Linked DNA regions of Homo sapiens. The protein of the gene in region 2 binds, or shares a complex with, the protein of the main gene of each other region. Each region holds a gene or a part of one and is shown on either strand. Other genes may lie near its edges.

Evidence for each region. Proteins that work in one complex are often made in the same cells at the same time.
Region 1: the proteins of CFTR (region 2) and YWHAB are in contact, whole or in part, in a crystal structure (PDB 6HEP), measured with the Homo sapiens proteins. Residues at the interface, in NP_000483.3 of Homo sapiens: Arg764, Arg765, Arg766, Gln767, Ser768, Val769, Leu770, Asn771, Leu772, Met773; in NP_003395.1 of Homo sapiens: Arg43, Asn44, Ser47, Val48, Lys51, Arg58, Arg62, Phe119, Lys122, Arg129, Tyr130, Glu133, His166, Pro167, Ile168, Gly171, Leu174, Asn175, Val178, Glu182, Ile219, Leu222, Asp225, Asn226, Leu229, Trp230.

Annotation. Positions count from the first base shown.
Region 1 is NC_000020.11:44,888,699-44,895,728, forward strand, and holds part of YWHAB (14-3-3 protein beta/alpha), read left to right. Parts: intron 1-7,030. UniProt on the Homo sapiens protein: Adapter protein implicated in the regulation of a large spectrum of both general and specialized signaling pathways. Binds to a large number of partners, usually by recognition of a phosphoserine or phosphothreonine motif.
Region 2 is NC_000007.14:117,475,494-117,483,042, reverse strand, and holds the start of CFTR (cystic fibrosis transmembrane conductance regulator), read right to left. Parts: upstream 3,019-7,549; 5' UTR 2,949-3,018; coding exon 2,896-2,948; intron 1-2,895. UniProt on the Homo sapiens protein: Epithelial ion channel that plays an important role in the regulation of epithelial ion and water transport and fluid homeostasis. Mediates the transport of chloride ions across the cell membrane.

The DNA.
Region 1 (7,030 bases), on a different chromosome or scaffold from region 2:
CCTGTAGGGATGATAATTGCTAGCATGCATCAGGAAGCAAGCTTGTGAACAATCCAGTTTTTCTAGTACTTGCTTCATACTAGGGAGAAAGTCATCAGTTACTTTGGCATAGAATTTTAGGTTCTTCATCTAATAGAATTTGATTGTGACCATTAATTTTTGTTTATCTTACGACTTCATCAGTAGATGTTCAGATTTTTCTCATTTTGTTGGCAGGGAGGAAATGAGGAAATATATCTACGTAAATAGAGAGAAACTTCTAAATTAAAACATCCTGTTGTGCTACCTGCTCTTTCGGTGTCAACAAACTGAGTTTTCCTTTAAATGCTGGTACCTTAGAGAATGAACTAAAATTTCCTTGTAGAGATACTTTTAAGTTCCTTGTTTCTACATTTTTCTAGGGAAAGATGACAATTCACTAGTTAAGGGGCAAGAAATTATGGTTACATAATAGCAACCTTTAAGCTTTAGAATCCTTTTGATCTCTATGTGAATATGATCTTAGCAGTCATCTGTATTGCATGATGGAGAAACTAACGGTTGGAGCTGGATTCTGAGGGAATTTTTCTAAGGGGAATACTTGAGGAAACAGACTAAAAGTGCTTTCTGTCTCATGATATGTGTGCTGAAGGCCAATCATCTTACTGCTTTCTCAACTAAAAGATTTTCTAATAGAGGTGTGGTTATATGTATCTGATACTTGTAATGAGATGTAAATGATCAGTGGCCTCAAGTCATTCCTAGCAGATTGTAGGTTAGTTAACTTTTTTTTTTTTTTTAAATTCTGGCCAGTTCTTTATTATGTAAGTTTTTCCCGTACTGGTTAGTTTATTTTATTGTTTTCCCTAAAAGAACCAACAGGAGGTTATTTCTGAATGGCCTTGACCAGGACAAGAAGATTGAAGGCTACAATAAAGTAGATATGAGTCCTGTCTATTATTATTATTTGCCCTCAGCTAAGAGCTTTCCTTTAAAATTTGTTTGACATTTTGGTAAGTCTTTGGCATGTTTTTATGCTGTTTTTAACTCCTTGATTTTGTTTTTATTTTTAAAGCTAGATAACATTAGCTTAATAGGCCAGTTTTAAAATTTCACTGTAACAACCTTGTATAGTTCTTTTAAAAGTTGACAATTCTCTCTTTTCCTTAAGTGAGCATTGGAGTTCATAATTGATCTTTAGGAGATAGGGTTACATAAAGGAAAGAGCATTAATTTTAAAATTAATGTTGGTTTAGATCCCAGATCTGCCATATATAGCTGTGTGACCCTGAATGAGTTAACTCTTTGCATTTATAAAACGGGACAATGTCACCTGCCTCATAGGATACTTAGGATCAAATGCGTTTCTAGGAATCCCTGAGTGCTTTGCAGGCCATAAATGATGGATGGATATTTTTGTTATTTACTAAACGAGTTAGCTGGTTTGGGTTTCTGTATAGTGAACTTTTTGTATAGCGAACTGATTGGACTTCTGAATGGAGGAGATGGACAGAAAGTAATCCAAAGGCTTGTTGAAAGTCAGTTTGAATCTATAAATACAATGATTGGTAGCTGAAAAATATTAGTCAAAATGTATAGTGTTGCTCCTGATGAGAGCTGGCTGGCTTTTTTCAAAAAGTAGTCTAAGACAATAAAAACAGTCTGTATTTTATAGGTCAGATGTGTGCTACCTTCCTCTGTCCACGTAGGAAATAATTGCTTTTTCACTTTTTAAGAATGCATCAGTTGATCAAGCAGTCACTCAGTGTGCTAGGCCTTGTACTCCACATTGGGTGTCCAAAGATACAAGTCTGGATTCCTACTTTTTTTTTTTTTTTTTTTTTTTTTTGTGAGATGGAGTCTCACTCTGTCACCCAGGCTGGAGTGCAGTGGCACGATCTTGGCTCACTGCAACCTCTGAAGCCCGGGTTCAAGCAATTCTCCTGCCTCAGCCTCCTGAGTAGCTGGGATTACAGGCGCCTGCCACTGCGCCCAGCTAATTTTTGTATTTTTAGTAGAGACAGGGTTTCGCCATCTTGGCCAGGCTGGTCTTGAACTCCTGACCTTGCGATCCACCTGCCTCGGCCTCCCAAAGTGCTGGGATTACAGGCGTGAGCCACCACGCCTGGCTGGATTCCTACTTTAAGCTCACAATCCGGTGTGGGAGCCAGCAGAGACACTTGCATTGCAGTAAACTGTGATAAGGGCCATTTTAGAAATAAGCATAGGGAAATTGTTATGTGCCTTTCTTTTAAAAGTCTTTAAAGAAAGCAGAGTACGTGTAAAATAAATGAGGTACATAGTAAGTTTCCCTTCACTGGCTGACCATTGGTTTTTTAAGTTTTGTGTGGAATGTACTGTGGTTGCCATTTATTTGAGTGCTTACTGTTTTATATCATAAACAGGTTTACTCCTTACAGGAACCCTAGTAAGTAGATTTGCCTATGTTTTTTTTTTTCTTCACAGAGTCTTGCTCTGTCGCCTAGGCTGGAGTGCAGTGGCGTGATCTCAGCTCACTGCAGCCTCTGCCTTCAGGCTGCCTCAGCCTCCCAATTAGCTGGGATTACAGGCGCCTGCCACTATACCCGGCTAATTTTTTTATATATTTAGTAGAGACGGGGTTTCACCATGTTGGCCAGGCTGGTCTTGAACTCCTGACCTCAAGTGATCACCCTCCTCGGCCTCCCAGAGTGCTGGGATTACAGGCGTGAGCCACCACGCCCAGCCCAGATTTGCCTGTATTATGGATGAGAAAACAAATTCACAGAGGTCACATAGCCTGTGGACTTGGTGTGCGGTACTGGTAAATCAGACTGATAGGCTTCATTATGTCAGTGGGCCCCAAACTGTAGAAATTATTCATAAGGTCAACCAATTGGGCTGTCTTTATGGATCAGAATTAACATAGTGTCTTTTGGATTGATTACTTAAGCCAAGAAGTCAATTTATTGTCATATCTACCATTAAGTCACATGTGTAACCTTGCGCCTGTCACTTAACACCCTCAGTAAGTTTAATCATGGCTAATTGGACATAATTAGCAATGATATGCAACAGCTGATGTGAAAGAGGGAAGGGATTTTGAAATAATAGAAATGCAGTTTCTCTCCAAATTCAGTGTTCACTGGACTTAGTGCTAATGACTTTGTATTACAGATATGCTGTGTTTTGTTTCCTAACAAAGAACCTGCAAATGTTTGAATGGAATTAAATTTATTACAGGACTCTAAATTTTATATGTAGAATGGCACACAGACAGTTTTATAGTGGGTGTTTTTTAGTGAGTAGTTTTCTCTGAGAGCCAGGAGTGTTTAACTTTTTCTGGGTAACACCCACTAACCACCTGGTCCCACTGACTTTCTCAGTCCCTTCTGCAGTAGCTTGGCATCTGATTTTTCTTCAGCAGAGAGACTCCAGAACTAAAACTTCTGCTGTACAGTGCTGTGGATGCTCTATCTGGAATGGTACATCTGTGAATGCTGTTCAGAATATGTGATCAGTTCCTTACCCCATTGAAACATTCGAGCCTAGATTTTTCAGATTTTCTTGTCAGTTTTCTTCCTTATTCTCATTTCTTTATCTGCTTTGGCCTTTGATTTTTATCTCATCTAGAAAAACATACATGCACTTTATTAATAACATCTCTTTTTAAGTCACGACCTAGCTACCTTTAAACCTATTTCCTCTAGTTCTGTCTGGTTGGCTTTCTAAGGAGAGGCATTGTAACCCTTAAACGTGTGCTGTTTTTTTTTTTAATTGATGTGTAATAGATATACATGTGCTCTTTTCTTGTGTTTCTACCACTAGAGTTTAAGCTCTCTGAGGGGAGGACTACACTGCTTTCTTTTAAATTCCTCTCAATGAATAATCCAAAGAGTTCTTAGAAATTTGGTAGTTTTTCATTTTGTTAGTTATTTCAACACACATTGGATTATATGTGTTACATTTTTGTGAGGTAGCTTAAGAATAAAAAATAAGAATGGCTTATGAGCCTTTACTCTAACCAGCACTATATGGGCATTTTATGTTCATTATCTTATTTGATAGCTATTAATGTCTCTTTTTAACACTGAGAAAACAGATTCAGGTAAGTTATAATGTGGAAATGTAGAAAAATCACCTACTTTCTCTTTAGAAGCTCAGATGTGTATGTAAGGCTTGCTAAAAGCAGACCCCACCGTATATTTTATATGTATAGAGCTTGGGTAATTCCTGACATATAATAATGGAGTCTTCATCTGAAATTTCTAACAAATTATTAAATTCAAAGCTTATTATTTTCGAATCGAGCATGTTCTTTGCCTTGAAAACAAAACATAGCTGAAAGCCAGTGCTTCTAAAGGCCACAGCTGTCATTTTCAACCCTTTCTGTCTTTGCACTGCCTTTATTTAAAAAAAAATGGATTAGCAGTAGGTAGTCTTCTTTTTCTTTTCTTTCTTTCTTTTTTGATTCTTCTCCTAGGATATCTGCTCTAGCCACTGGGAAATAACTTCTCAGTATTTTGACCCTGACTAGAAAGATGTCCCTTGGGGAAGGAATTGGGATAGAGGGGCTAGGCTGTTTCCTAGATCCTCTATTTTCAGCATTTATTATCTGATTTAGGATTTTGTTTCTTTGAAGAAAATCCTATTTTGTGAGTACCTTTAGAATTATTTTTCATAGCTGTTTATCTGCACTAGTGGTTTCTCTTTAAACAGAAAAACACTTTTTTTCTTAAAAAAAGAAATAGTACCCAATTTTTAAAAAAGTAATACATACTTGAAGAAAATTTAAAAAGATAGGAAAATGAGGATATAATAATGTTATTACCCAGAGACAGAACCAGTGTTAACCATTTGGTGTAACCTTTCTGTTCGGGTTTGTTTGTTCTTTAGGGGATATTTTACAGAAATAAAATATTGTGCAGCCTCGTCCCTCCAGCCCCCATTGCTCTTAAATAAATCTTTTCATGACATTAAATCTCTTCTTTTGATGGCCACGTAATCTTGTACCATCTATCTCCTTCCCTCCCCTGCCTTTTTTTTTTTTTTTTTTTTTGAGACGGAGTTTCGCTCTTGTCGCCCAGGCTGGAGTGTAGTGGCGCAGTTTCGGCTCACTGCAACCTCCACCTCCTGGGTTCAAGTGATTATCCTGCCTCAGCCTCCCGAGTAGCTGGGATTACAGTCATACACCACCCCGGCTAATTTTTTTGTATTTTTAGTAGAAACGGGGTTTCACCACATTGGCCACGCTGGTCTCGAACTCCTGACTTCAGGTGATCTGCCTGCCTTGGCCTCCCAAAGTGCTGGGATTACACACGTAAGCCAGTGCACCTGGCCAGTCTCCTTATTTTTTAAACCATTCCCATATTGTTGGATATTTAGATTTGCTTCCATTTTTTCACTAAGCAATCTCTGCGTTTATCAACAAATGCTTCCCAGTCCTGACTTGCTGCATCCAGTGGCTTAGAACAGATTGACAGCCATCATCATCATATAGGTGTGCTGGAGAGCTCCTGTTCTCAAGCACGTCAGTCTCTTCCTGAAATATGCCCAGCACAAGGAAAATCTCTTGGCTTACTGCAGGGTTGGGCCTTTTGTGGCCTCTAATGAGTTTGCCTGCGCCAGTATCTTGATGCTTCTGCAGTGGTGCCAGGCCTGACGATGAGACTATAGTCTTTCAAAAACTTTTTAGGAGACAAATAAAGAGTATCTTGCTGACTTTTTTTTTAGTGGGAACCTCATTCAAAGTCTTGGAACAACAGTAGGTCTTGATTAAAAACCATCATGGCATATCACTAGAAAATTCAATTAGAAACTAATGGATAAACTTCAGTTACATTTAACATATATGTCCATTTTAACATAACATACTAACTATCTGTACAAGATTAATCTAGACTTTTGCTTTTCCTTCTCACAAAATTGTATATTTAAAAAGAAAATTCAAGCTTATGGTTTTATGGGCTGCTACAGTGTAATAGTCGTGGAGAAGAATAATAGTACTTCAGTTTGATTTTGCACTATGCATTTTTCAAGGAAGATTTCCACATTTAGTATTCTTTAATTCCCTGCGCCTCATCTTCACAGCAACTCTACTGAGGTAGATGCCATCTTCATTTTATGGATTGGAAGGCTGAGATTTAACATGCTCACATGGCTGTATAGTGGCACATTGCGCTGTGACACACAGTCCTGCTGCCTTCCGACTATACTACATATAGGTACTCTGTGTTCCTTGTGCTCTCCCAATAATGATTTGTAGAAAAACTTGATATTCATTTGCATATGAGTTTTGTGCTTAGCACAGTTATAAGCATTAAATGTGAAACAAACATGAAGCTTTCCTTTGAGGGCACACACGTGAAGCTGTAAGTGGTACAGTACTCATCTGTATCACAGAATGGCATAAAGAAGTCCTAGACCATGTAATAGGCTATAAGTATATTCAGAGTCATAGGCAAGGTAAATCAGTGAGGGCTAGGGCAGTCAGGGAAGGGTTTGTAGCCCTAGAAGAATGGGTGGAGTTCAGATAGGCAGGCAGTAAATAGGAGAGCACTCTAGATGAAGGGAACTACAAAAGCAGTTTCAGACACGTTTGAGCATTGTGTTTATAGGGCATGTGGTGCTGGCCAGCCTGAGAGAAAGGTACATGTTGGAGAACAGTGGATGAGAAAGCCAAACAAGTAAAGAGGAGACAATTTATCAGGAATTTGAAAGCCAGGTAGAGCTTAAATTTGATGGAGTAGCCAAAAGGGAGTCATTGGAAGTTACTGAGTAAGGACAAAGGCAAGACTAGAGGTAATTTAGGAAGAGTAATTTTTTGTTTGTTTTGAGACAGGGTGTCTGTCACCCAGGCTGGAGTGCAGTGATGCAGTCATGGCTCAGTGCATCCCTGGCCTCCTAGCCTCAAGCGATTCTCCCATCTCAGCCTCCCAAGTAGCTGGGACCACAGGCATGAGCCACCACACCTGGCTAATATTTTATTTTTTGTAGAGACAAGGTCTTACTATGTTGCCCAGGCTGGTCTTGAACTCCTGGTCTCAAGCGATGCTCCAGCTTTGGCCTCCAA
Region 2 (7,549 bases):
ATTTCCACCTTAGATCCTAACAATATTTTACTCTTTGGTCTTACTTGAGACTAACTGCAGAGTTTACAGGAGACCCCACATCCCTTGTAAGAAATCAGTGGCACTGTATACTTGGATTCTGTGGGGTTCCCACAGTTCCTCAGTATAGACCTAGACATAGCACAGATATCACGACGAAAATTCAAGTTATGTCATGTGACACACGGTTTGATATACACTCTTACAACTAAACGAAATATGAAAAATTCAGGGCATGAGAGAAGAGACAGAGAGGAACAAACTGAATAACTACCTTAAAAGTTGTGAGAAAATGTAAATTTAAAAAATTTTCCCAAATTAAATAGCACAATCTCTGTTGGTGACCATTTATAAATCAATCCCACTTGTATATGAATTATAAATTATATGCTAATATATCACTTCTAGTTTAAAAATAGCTTCCTATTTCATAAATGTTATTTTCATAAAAGTTTCAATTTAATGTACTTGTTTGCTCTGATAGTCATGAACTACCTGAATTTTTCATGGTGAAATTCTCTCTTAGATTATGTTTATTTTATATATATATATGGATTATGATAGTTCAGATGTTCTTCAAATTTTATACTTGATGTGAAATCCACACAAAATTAAGAAAGTAAGAAATAACTTAGATTTTTTTTCCAAACTTTTTGGTTTTCCAATGACAAAACCTAGACATATAAAGAGATATTCAATACAATCTATAACTCATACCATAATAATTTTACTCTTTTATGACTCTCAAACTGAAGGGATCCTATTCAGAAAGTTAAATTCTAAGGCATTTAACAACATACAATAGAAACATGTGACGTGTTTCCTGTATATCTGGTAAGGCCATGTGAAACACAATTTTTCATAAATTAAATTCTCATACAGGCCCACTCATTGCATATCCAGATTGAGAGTCACAAAATTATACTCAAAGATGAATTGAGCATCTTATATTAACAAGGTGCATGTACTGTGATGAATGTGAAAATATGGTAATCCATAATAATAGCAGTTAACATTAGGCTAACTTTTCACATTCATTTTCTCAAGGGATTAACCCCTATGACAGTCTCCAAATTTTAAAGGTCAAGTCACACACAGAGATGTTAAGGGACCTGCCTCAGGCAACAGAGCTACTAAACAGTAGATGTAGGATCTGAATCAAAATAATCTGACTCCAAAGCCTACCACTTTGAAAACTAAGCAATACTGCCTAACTTAATGCAGAAAATATGTTTTTTACACTTTTAGAATTGCAGTCCAGAAGGCCAGAAGGAAGTTTGTAATCATTGGTATTTTAGGTGATTGTCAGTTCCTATAAATAGTAGGAACTTAACTTTTAAAAACATACCTATTCTTAAAGCACCTTATGAAATATTTTGGAGAACAGAAATGAGTATGCTCTTAACACACTTAGCAGCCTTTGTAATACATTTTCTTTGCAAACCAGCCTGATAGCATTTTTTAACCTATATTAAATGTGTCAGGTGATTTGTAAAAAGAAAATTATATAAAAACCCACTTTGACAGATCAATAGTAAGCTATTTTAAAGTTCATTAGTATTTAGAACTATCCATGAAATATTCATTCTTCTGAAAACTGCATTTTTAGACTGGTTGGCATTTAGGTTCCTCAAAGTTCTCTGCTAAAAAAAGTCTATAATTTATGCCAATTAACATTTTGACTTTATAAGGACTAGGAAAACAGATCAATAGATAAGCCGATTTTATAGGTGGAGTAACAAAAGGTGGATAACATCAACACAAAAAGATAATTCCAAAGAGTAAAGTCCTTCTCTCTCATCCACAGGGAGGAGCTCTCCTTCAAGGGCCAACAGTCTCTCCTTAGCACCGGAGTTCCAGGATTAACTGCACATGCAGAGAACTAAACATAAGAGAGATGTGAAAGCTAAATTCCTTCCCCCCTACACACATATATGAGCTATTTATAACATATTTGACTTTTTTGATACCTCAGTATGCTTATTCATTGGGTAATTATGTGTCAAGTAATGTCCCAAGAGAGAGCAGTACCTATTCATTCATTCACACCAGTATAATAACAGGAACAAAGTAGATGCAATATCCAAAGAACACTTCAAATATGAAGTGCTACATCTAACAACACTTTGCCTAAGATTCCGAACTTAGATGCTATTTTAAAAAATCTCATTAAAGTTTGCAAGCTTCTGTGGCTCATCACATTAGGCTATGAATACAATTTATTAAATGTCAGTTGGATATAACTTCGGTATCTATTCCTATGGCTTTTAAAATTTATAGCTTGTGAAGTAACTTTTTTCAAAATAAATATTTCAACAAATTTGCTTTCAATTTTTGAAGAATCATTTACCTGTGACAAATACTAGATATATCCAGTCTCATAACAATAAATACTTTAAGCATATATTTTCTACCTACCCCAAAATTTTTGTTGGCTGAATTCAGTCAAGAAATGTTTTCTGAGCACTTACTATATGCAGGCATGGCACCTGTATGTGCCAAGAAGACAATCAAGTGTCCAAGGCATGAAGGGGGAAAACCAATAAACCATACTTAGGTACTTATTAACAAGTATTTTTAGTTTCTTAGAAAAATGAAATAAAACAAGTGCATAGTAGCGTACTTGAGTCTTGAGATTCTAACTTTTCAGTTGCAAGTAGATGTGGCTCTCTATTCAATCAGCTTCAGTTCATTCTTCCATCTCTTCTTAATGCTTTCTGTTTTATTCTACAATACCCACATTTTCTTTCAAAACAATGAATGATAGCGCATCTTTTTAAAAACTGCTTATTCCTTTACCCCAAACCCAACCCATACACACGCCCTCCTCTTTCGTGGGCACGTGTCTTTCCGAAGCTCGGTTGGCCACCTTCTCACCTGAAAAAAAGTTTGGAGACAACGCTGGCCTTTTCCAGAGGCGACCTCTGCATGGTCTCTCGGGCGCTGGGGTCCCTGCTAGGGCCGTCTGGGCTCAAGCTCCTAATGCCAAAGACCTACTACTCTGGGTGCCTGCCGCTCAACCCTTTTTCTCTGACCTGCTGTGATGTCATTTGCTTCCAATTCCCCCCACCCACCCCTACTCCGCACACCACCCCTTCCTTTTGCTCTTTCCCCCGCCTTCACTGCCCAGGTTAAAAGCCGAGTGCTGCCTGGTCCGGCCCCAAATTTGCTCTAGCGGCTTTCTCCACCCACTACGCACCCCCGCCAGCACCCCTCCCGCTCCTTCCTCCTCTCCTCCTTCGCTCCCTCGCCGCCCCGCACCTCCCTTTCCCGATTCTGACTCCCAGCCTCCCTCCCTCGCGCGCGCTCCTTCCAGGTCCGTGTCCTTACCGCCCAGCACCAGGCCCATCCCGCAGGTGGGCGACAGTCGCGGCCTCTCTTTAGGTCCAGTTGGCAACGCTGGAGGACAGAAGAAGCCACCGGCGGGAGAACCGGCTCCCCGGAGAGCTTCCTAGACCCTCCTTCGCGTCAGGGTCCGCCAGACCCAGGACCCGCTGCCACCAGCTTCCCCGGAGCCTGCCTTCCTCCTCCTCCTCCTTTTCCCGATGATCCTAGTCGGGTTCCTGTTACGTTTGCAAGGTGCATTTTGAAAAGGGAAGGAAAATGTGCCTTTCGTATATCAAAATACAGCCTTAGAGAGCCGAAAAGTTCCGCGGCAGTGTGGGTCTGATGCATTTACCTTAGCGCTTCCTTTGCGTGTCGGAGAAAAGAACCAAGCTTTATTAGTTTCAGGTTTAGGTGAGTGAACTCCAAGGGTGGCACAGAAATCTTAGGACACGTACTGAAAGAGAAAAAAAAATCTGCAAGGAGGTAAGAGGAGATAATGCTTTGCGTAATTACCGGCCCAGGATGTGTTCCTTGTCTATCCTTTTTAGCCCAGTGCGCATTTTTAAGGAAGGCTTTGGAGTGTTTTAGCGATAATGACAAGGAACAATGTAAACTAACCCGCCCTCCTATAGATTTCCTAGTCTCAGTCAGCAAAACATCTTGACTAATCCACCGAAAGGAAGCCAAGCAGTCTTTGAAGCGAAGGTAATGTGTTAACTTTGACCTGACTCAGAGAAACGCCATCTTCAACTCTCTGAGGGGCATCTGGGCATTCCCAGGCGTAGGCGCCTTCCTTCTGAGAATTTTGTGTAGGATTGCCTGTGTCTCTGACGGTTTTTAAAGAGCCAACCCTCTAATCCCTGAACCCTACTGTGTAAAAGCAAGCATACATTGTGTTTGAATTGAAAAATTCAAAGGAAAGTAAAAATTTTGGCCTGATTACTTTATTGCCGACACATCTAAGGCAAGGGTCTTGTGAATTATCTTGTTGTTGACTTGTGGTCACCCAAATACAGTACAAATAAAATGTGCATTTCATGATGGAAAGACAAGAACCTGTGTTGAAAATAAAGAATGTGTTCAGCAGGTTTTCATAGCTCTGCTTTGCCCTTCCGTGGGCAAAAGCATACCTTTTTTTCTTGATATTGTAAAGTAAGATTTAGAAACATTTAATCTTTATTATCCTAAATTTGAATAGTAGAGAAAAGAGCAAAGAGATAAACCACATTGCATTAAGTTAGACACCAGGAAAGAATTTCAGCATTTTTAACTCACCATCCACTCTGTTGTTTGAAATCCTCTACCTGTGTTTTCATCTCTCCATTATGACAAAAAATTGTGAGACTCTGTCTTCACTATTGACTTTTCCCAGACATGTGATTGAACTCACCACATCCACTTCCCCATTCCCAATCTGTTGTTTGGTTTATAACTGTTAGTGTGGCCCATCAAATATAATACATGCATTTTGAAATAAATTAATAATTAGTTCTTCTTTGTTATCAACAAGCAAGTGAAAATAAAGGGATTAAGAATTAAGCTCCAAAGAGGATCATAGAAGCTGACCAAGGAATATGGCTGGAGGAGACTCCAAATATTTTTCAGCCAATCTCCTTCTGGAAAGAGTGAAACAGTTACTTGAGTTCTTACTATTTGCCAGACATTATTCATATAACCCTTATAACAACCATGTAAATAGGTGTTATTATCTTCAGTTTTCAGTTAAGCAAACAAGAAAAGTTAAGTAAATGCCTATAATGATAGAGCTAAGATTCAAACCTGAGTCTAGTTCTAAACCATTACTCCTATCACTGTGTAATACTGCTTCTAATCAAATCATCCCTCATGTATTTATATAATGTCACTTATATATCAACATAGTCTTTTTCCTCACATTAGTTTCATGAAATAATAACTTCTAGACCTGTTTAACAATGAAACAGGAAAGCAGAAATCTACAAACCAAGTAGCCAAACTAAGTAGCCACTGGAGTTACATACTTTTAATGAATTACATTTAACTATAACATTGCATTTTAAGCATGTACACACACATGTACATAGGAAGACCACAGATTTTTATCATAAAACATTACAGCCCAAATTTGTTTTGGTAGAAATAAAACTTTACCATTATTCAGAGCTTTAACACAGTTAGCAAGCATGTCCAGATGCACTAATTGCGACATGATATTCAGGATTTGCATCTAGGTACATACATAATGTGGGAATGAGGACTTATCCACCAGAAAATTGTTCAAATGTGGCTTAAGGTCATGATTGAAATCCTAAACGTATCTCTGAAATGTCAGGAACAGGAAAGAGATTAATGGGCCAGGGTGATAGTAGGTGAAACAGTGAAGCTCTTCTTTCATGCTGCTCAATGATAGCTCATATCATTTTATAACAATTTTATAATACCTTATGGTTGTTGGTCACTTACCATATATGCCAATTATTATGACAAATACACAGCCTAATTTGCCTTTTTTAATCTTTACAACACCTTCATGGGACAGGAAACTTCTTCATTCACTATATATTACAGATAATGAACCTGAGGAAAAACAAGTTTCATGTTTTCCCAAGCAAGTTGCACAATTAATAATAAAAGAGGAAACTGGGATTTAAACCTAAACAATCTGTGGCCAGAGCCCAAGCATTTAATGACTGACTACACATACTTCACATACTTCCCCTATAGAATTTCCTAATGCAAGAACTGACCTTAAATATAGAAGATTGGGTGGCCATTTCTGTGGCATCATTTTAAAGGTATATTAAAAAGAAGAGCGAGGATGAGTAGGAGAAAAGGAAGCCAACATTTATTTAATACCTACTTTGTGTTCAGCAATGTGCTGGGTGCTTCTTACAAATGATCTCAATATATGAAAGATTATAAGTGATAACCTTCTCGTCAAAGATTAGTCACCCTGCCAGGTTTCACCATTAGAAATCATGAGAGTGAACTTTCACAATACTTTACTTATCCATCATGTTCAACTTAATTTGAGAGTGTTTCTCAGATTCTCTCCTGAGTAGACTTTAATAGTGATAAGTGGGTAGCAATCACAAGTACACTAAAACCTGAAAATGTGGAAGAAGAAAAGAAATAGTCACTCCTATCGGGAAGAAAAGCTCGTTAAAAAAAGACAAGGTCTCTTCAGCTTCATATATGTAGTCTGGTTGTGCTTATAAGTTTATCTAAGCTAGAAGGGTAAGAACAGCCACAGCTCTTCAACAGTGGGCCACAGTGATTACCTAGGATGTAAACACACATTACAGTCTTACAAAGATGTTTCAGGACTTGAAAGAGGTGTCCTGGGACATGACTAGGCCAGATTCTAGTTTACTTTTACTGCTTCCAAAATAATGTTTGGTCTGACAATTCTGTTTATAAACACACACGCACACCAACTTCTATTTACATACATTCATAACCCCTCTTCCCTACAACCTCCTTGGAGGCACGAATTGCATCTTATGTTTTCCTTTGAATTCACCCCTTATTTTGTAATACAGTATATACACTCAAACAACCGTTTTCTCTTGGGGTTACTGACCTAATAATTGAATGTCATTCTAAAGGGGATATTTGAAGATGCTCAAAAGATGAATGTTTACTATTAATTTTTCACCAAGCAAGAGCTTGGGTGCTAAAGCAGATGTACAGAATAAGGCAGTATCTCCATCCTTCAAAATTTAGAATCCACTGATGGACATCAACATTCTCTGAACATGACAGAGTATAGTGGAAATAGCTTGTGCTAAAGCAATAAAGAACTAGGTTTTCAATCCTGGCACCACACTTAGCTCTGTGACCTTAAGTAAGCTACTTAACTTTTCTGTCTTTTGTTTCCTTGCCTGAAAATGAGGTTAAATACACTCACCTTGGTCAGGTGCCATGGCTCATGCCTGTAATCCCAGAACTTTGAGAAGCTGAGGCAGGAGGATTGCTTGAGCTCAGGAGTTTGAGATCAGCCTGGGCAACACAGTAAGACCTTGTCTCTACAAAAAAATAAAAAAAATAGCCAGGTGTGGTGGTGCATGCTTCTGATCTCAGCTACTTGGGAGGCTGAGGCAGGTGGATGGCTTGAGCCTGGGAGATCGAGGCTGCAGTGAGCTGTGATCATGCCACTGCACTCCAGTTTAGGTGACAGAGTAAGACCTTATCTCAAAAAAAAAAAAAAAATCACCTCATAGGA